Regions from separate parts of the Homo sapiens genome. Here region 1 is linked to region 2. Evidence: fine-mapped expression QTL. A gene starts in region 2. The other region holds a variant in brackets. All regions are shown on one strand. Distances are from middle to middle.

The links. PIP is the estimated chance that this variant, and not a neighbour inherited with it, causes the effect. A credible set is the group of variants that fine-mapping cannot tell apart.
Region 1: its variant is the best candidate, but not a certain one, in a credible set for the expression of CDKAL1 in whole blood (TOPMed, PIP 0.51).

The regions. Positions count from the first base shown.
Region 1 is chr6:20,575,087-20,578,014 of GRCh38, reverse strand. All of the region lies in intron 4 of CDKAL1 (CDKAL1 threonylcarbamoyladenosine tRNA methylthiotransferase), which reads right to left. LOC124901273 (a long non-coding RNA gene) reads right to left here. Exons shown (of 2, transcript XR_007059491.1): 2 at 1,505-1,636. Among named protein-coding and RNA genes, the nearest start is that of CDKAL1, 42 kb to the right of the region's middle. The variant C/T (reference allele first, on the strand shown) is at 1,363.
Region 2 is chr6:20,532,927-20,535,854 of GRCh38, reverse strand. It overlaps CDKAL1 (CDKAL1 threonylcarbamoyladenosine tRNA methylthiotransferase), which reads right to left and starts at 1,398. Exons shown (of 16, transcript NM_017774.3): 1 at 1,281-1,398; 2 at 461-504. RefSeq lists enhancers at 1,200-1,279, 1,310-1,469.

The DNA of each region.
Region 1 (2,928 bases), 42 kb before region 2:
TATTTGTTCTTTTTATTGTAACTACACCTAAGACTAAAACATTTTCCCCATCCATCTTCTTGACATCCATCTCCTATTGTCTCTCTGAGTTCTGATCACTGGCTCATTCTTCCACTCATCTTCCCTAGACTGTAGTCTGCTTATACCATGATACTAATAGAGTTAACAAAAAGAAAGGCTATGAATACCCAATCAAAACAGCAATGTTTTTATTAAATAGACCAGCAGCTGTGTGAGCAGAGACTTGTAAATGCATCTGTTCTACAGGATTTTATGTTTAATTCAATTTGTTCAAATCAGAGCACCAAGGCCCTGTAACTATGGGCTAGACAAGGAAATAGTTTTGCTAAACAGAATCCTACATTAACATGGTATTTTGAGAAAAGAATTGTACCTATTCATTCATTCAGTCATTCACACAACAAGCACTTACTGAGCACCTATTCCATTCTAGCTATTATGTACGGTACTGAAAATACAAAGATGAAGTACAGCCTGGTAGAGGTGACAGACATCTGAACAGATGGTTATAATACACTGGCAGGTTCAATAATACACTTAGGCCTGGGGTAGTACTATGAAAGCACAGAGCAAGGAAAGATTTCTTTTGAAGTCTGAAGCTTTTGTAGAGCAAAAAGGTACAAAGTGAAAATGAAAAATATACTCCCACCTAACCCCCGCCCCCTACATGGAGGGCTGCAGCTATATCAGTAATGTTTCATTTCTAAATCTGAGTAGGTGATATATAACTGGTCCTTATTCTCTTAATCCTTTTCTCTGTCAAATAGTTCATAATAAAATGTGTTAATACTGCCACCAGGTAGTACCTATAGACTCGGAAAGCCTTCCCCACTTACAGCTCTTTCTCTCACAACCGATCGCTTGCGGTCACCAAGGTTAGGTCGCCAACAACGAAGGGAAATGTGGAACAGAGACAGAAGTCCTCTTGTAATAGGAGTGTATGGAGGCCTGAAAAGGCAAAAGGAAATAGCCTACCAAGATTTCAAAATACACTACAAAAAAATTGTTAAATACAAAATGGGTATGGAGAACATATTTCAACCTCATTTTAGACATACACAGTAAAAAATTAAAATATATATATACCTGTGCCATATAGAGAAAATAAACATTATCACAAACAACTAATTCCATTCATTCTGACCACTGTTCTCTCAACAAACATTATTGAACACCTGCTCCACGCCACACACAGAGAAAAGCAAGCTCCTGCCTCCAAGGTGGCTACAGTCAAGTGGGAGGTGTCAGTCCTGTGAGCTGACTCCTAAAGTACAATAGGTAGGTTCTATGATAAGGACTAGCATAGAGTTTGCTACAAGGAACATGGGGAAACAGAAGGCG[C/T]TAAGCATTGCAAAATTTACCATCTTCACAGGTCACACAAATAAATGCATTACCCAGGAGTAAAAATGCTACAGAATAAAATGAAATGCTGAAAATGCAGAAGACTTGAAGTTAATAAAATAAGAATTGCTTTACCACAAAATCTCATAAAACTGTTGATTTTTATTATACTTCATACCTGATTTCAAAGAGCATAAAATTTTCAGTAATGATGAAACACCAATTGTTCTCCTATTCCATATCCAGGAGTCACGCCATCTTGCTAACACCTCCTCTTAATGGTTAAAAAGAAAAAGAAAATTGACAAAATTCTGGAACTTGTTTAAAAGATAGGTGTCACTATCATGCTGAAAATATCCTAGCTTAAGCCAAAATGACTGACAGAGACATGTGCTGGGGCCTCCAGGCAAAGGTAGACTTCTCATGACTGGAGTAACTGTGTAACATGTTTACATGTATGACATAACTCAGCTATTTATTCTTCTTTTACAGTTCTCACAGACACTAAATAAGATCTTTAAATCAGAGTTTTGGAATGTTCATTTTTCCATCCTCAAAACACTGTTTAATACAATATAAAAGATAAATTCCTTACATATATATGTCTATAGCTAAGTCAACTTAAGGTACTTTTGAGTCAATTAATTGACTTCCCTCTCCTTGTGATCGTATAGTTATGCTGTAAGAACAATGCTGCTCCTTACACACCTCCTCCTCTTAGCATTTGAGAGTTTAAAGGTAAGGGGCACGACAGATTTGTGATGTTTTGATAGAGTGTGTTGCCATGGAAATGACTGCCTTGTTCCTTACGAAGCATCATGACCTCCTTGCAAATGAAACAGGAAAAGGATGATTTCTGAGGATTCAACTGAAAGAAAAATTAATGGCTAGGGAAAAAAAGATCCAGAAACTAAGCAGACAATGTGAAAAATATTGCAATGTCAAGTGCTATACTGAAATATTTTCGAAGAACTTTTAAAAGCTATGACCTCCAAAATAGAAACCCTGTAATCAAAAAGATATAATATTAATGTGAAGATAAACCATAGAAATAACTTGGACCTGTGGTTTCTGAAAAAATATATTACAACCTCAATTCTGATAGATTATGAGAAAAATCATATGAATTTCTGTGGCTATGTTATAAAATTAAATGGATACTTTTTCCCTTCTAAAAGCAGTTTGCTTTCTTTTTTTTTTTTTTTTTTTTTGTGGTGCCCCTGTTTATACAGCTTATCCCTTATCACACTGACAAGACTGGGAACCACAGCAGATGGTCCCCGCAGACATAATTCTAACAGGTTTTTTGTGCAAACAAAAGATAAAGAAAGCTACAGCAATGATTTACTGATATCTAAAGTTGAAAACTGACAAAACACAAACTGCTTTTTTCTTACTGTTTGAACTGTTTATCCTTTAAACTACTAAATAAGATAGATATGGCCAAAATTAAATATGGTTTAAAAACTACAAAACCAAATACTCCAATCTTAACAGCCATTAAGTTCTGTCTTTGAGTTACCTAAATGTCCTAACTTTATTTTTTTTTAATTTTCACCATTGCCT
Region 2 (2,928 bases):
CACTTCATACCCATTAGGATGGGTAGAATCAAAAAGACAAATAACTGTTGACAGGCATGTGGATTACATCACCCAGAGGGGAAGAAAAAGAGAACAGAGGTAGGAGAAGGTACAAGACCACGACTTGAGAGACTCCAAATTTAACTGCCAGATAAAGGAAAATCAGCTTATAATGGATTCCAAGAAGCAGCCACCAGACAAGGAAAAAAATCCATGGGCCATGGAAGGCAAATGAAAAGGGCATCTCAAAAAAGTGGACATGGTCAATGCTGGTGAATGAAAATGAAAGGTTAAGTAAAATAAATGAAAATATCTCTTCGATTTAATGCTATGTAAAGCACAATGTTTCCATAACATGATAGTGGCAAATAGCTAAAACATTAGGCTACCTCTCTGCATTTTCTAACATGCAGAAATACGCACAGCACTCAAACATAAAAGGTTTAAAATAAATCAGTACCTTAATTATCTGCAATTAGTCTAAAGTCCTCTTGAAAGATGAGTCTGGAAAATAAAAATTGATTAGGAAAAGTAAGCACCCAAAAAGTTCACAAAACCACTGTAAGGATTCTTTACTTAAAAGGAATCAGACTCCATAAAAGACTGCTTTATACAGCAGGATTAATGATGCTCCATACTACTTGTAACTTCTTACTGATTACAACAGGTGTGCTGACATCTGCCGTGACGGTGATCCAGTGTCTGGCTTTAGTAATAAATGTTGTATTCAGCACCGCAACACGTCTGCATAGTGCGAGTAACCAACCACTACAAAACAGGATTAAGTCAATAAGGTAGATAGACATCCAGATCACGTTCCATCCGAAAGATAACTGTCGTCCCGAGATTCAGAAAAAGGTTTTATGAGCAAAGAAGAACGAAAAGTGAAAAAGCAAGACACCTGCTTTTCTCAATAACTTCTGCTTAAATTCTTAACATACTGATCTGGGAAAGCTATATAACTGCGAAAGCCTTGTCACATCTACAAATTCACTAAGGTATAAAGTGGGAGAACAAATGAAGTTAAACCTGACAATAAGGAACGAGGTGCCTAAAATACTCCTAACTGGAGAGCGGCACCTGAGGCCAACGACCCTATCCTCGCTCCTGGAAGCCCCATCTGCCTCCCAATTCCCCCATCCCAGCTGGCAAATCCCCTTTTAACTGCGAAACAAATTTGCAAACAGCCCAAGAAAAACTGAAACTGGAGAAACAAGGCTTGGCCATAAAAGGAGCTGTGGCCACACTCTGCCCCACATGGACCCATCGGCCACCCTTACCCAGAAGTCGGGAAGTAAAAACCAGTCCAAAGTGAGAAAATCAACCCGCCACTCTCCGGAAGCTGCACAGACTTTAGATGGAGAGCGCCATGACACATACGTCCCGCCACGTTTATTTGCGCATGCTCAGCGACGGTGGCCCGAAGAGATCAAATTACATCATTGCTGAAAGCGCTAGTTCTGGTTTAACTTAGTTTAGGAATGACTACGCTTCAAGTTCCTTTGATTCCAAGAACTAAAATAACAACCCTGAGTCCTCGGGTTCCTAGAAATGCTTAATAGCCAACTTCTCCTAAGCTTTTATGTGTTAGACACTGTGCTAAGTACTTTGCATAAATATTATTCACTATTTATTTATTATTATTATTATTCCCAGTTTACAAAAGAGGACACTGGAAGTTTAAGGACTTAATCTAAGTTACTCTACTAGTCGTGCTGCGCTCTGGGCTGGATCCGATGCTGTCTGACTCCCAAAGAACTTGCTCTTTTCACTGCATTTTACTAGCCTCCTCAATCATTTGTGAAAAGAGGTCTCTTCTTTAATATTAAAAAAACAGGAAGGAAAGGATAAAGGTCAGTTGGTAGGTTTCACTTAATATACATCATTGAGCACCACACAAGTGTTTTTGTTTTTTGTTTTGGAAAACTTAGATGGCAGTTTAGCAGACACCTATGGAAAGAAAATACTTTTATGGAGTACGGATTCTCACCCGCTTTCTCTACATATGTTATCTCACTTTACTATTCGTTACCCAAGACACTGTATTTGACCATGTGTTTACCAGAAGAATATCTTTACTTGAAAAAGTAAAGGTAATAGGAGGCAATAGGCCATGAAGAAGGGTCAGAAATCGTGAGTTTTATGCCTGACTTAGGGTTTCATAGTGATTTGGGGCAATTACTTTGTTTTGCAAATGCCTTTCCTAGTACAATTTCATCTAATTAAAATGCCATCCATCTACTCAAGAGGCTGATGTGGGAGGATCACTTGAGCTCAGAAGTTTGAAAACAGCCTGGGCAACACAGTGAGACCCAGTCTCTAAAATAGATTTAAAAAAAAAAAAAAAAACCACCCTTTTCTCTGTTTATCCATATCCATAAAATAATCTAAACTGTGCCCTGGGGTCCACTGTTGTCTTTACCCACCTAAATTAAAATTGTGTATTTATGTTGCCCTACTTTTTTTTTTTTTTTTTTTTTTTTTTTAGATAGGGTCTTCTTCTGTCACCCAGGCTGGAGTACAGTGTTACCATCACAGCTCACTGCAACCTCTCCCTCCTAGCCTCAAGAGATTCTCATGCCTTAGCCTCCCAAGTAGCTGGGACTACAGGTGCACACCACCATACCCATCTAATTCCATCTCTTTCACTAGACCAAAAGTAGGCCCTGGGTTATCTTCTTGGTTGTAATCGCACTACCTAGCACATAACCTTGTGCCTATGTTTATAGCTTCTCAATAAACATATGTTGAATGAATGAATGAATGAATGAATGACTCCACCCCTTTTCCCCCAAGATCTAGTTGAGTTCAGTAAAAGATATTTTACTGAGTATGTACCCCATGACCACAAGCACTGTGATAGATGCTAGAGCTAAAAAGAAAGAAAAAAAGTACTGCCTATTGCAATTGCAGGCTATTTTGAAAAAA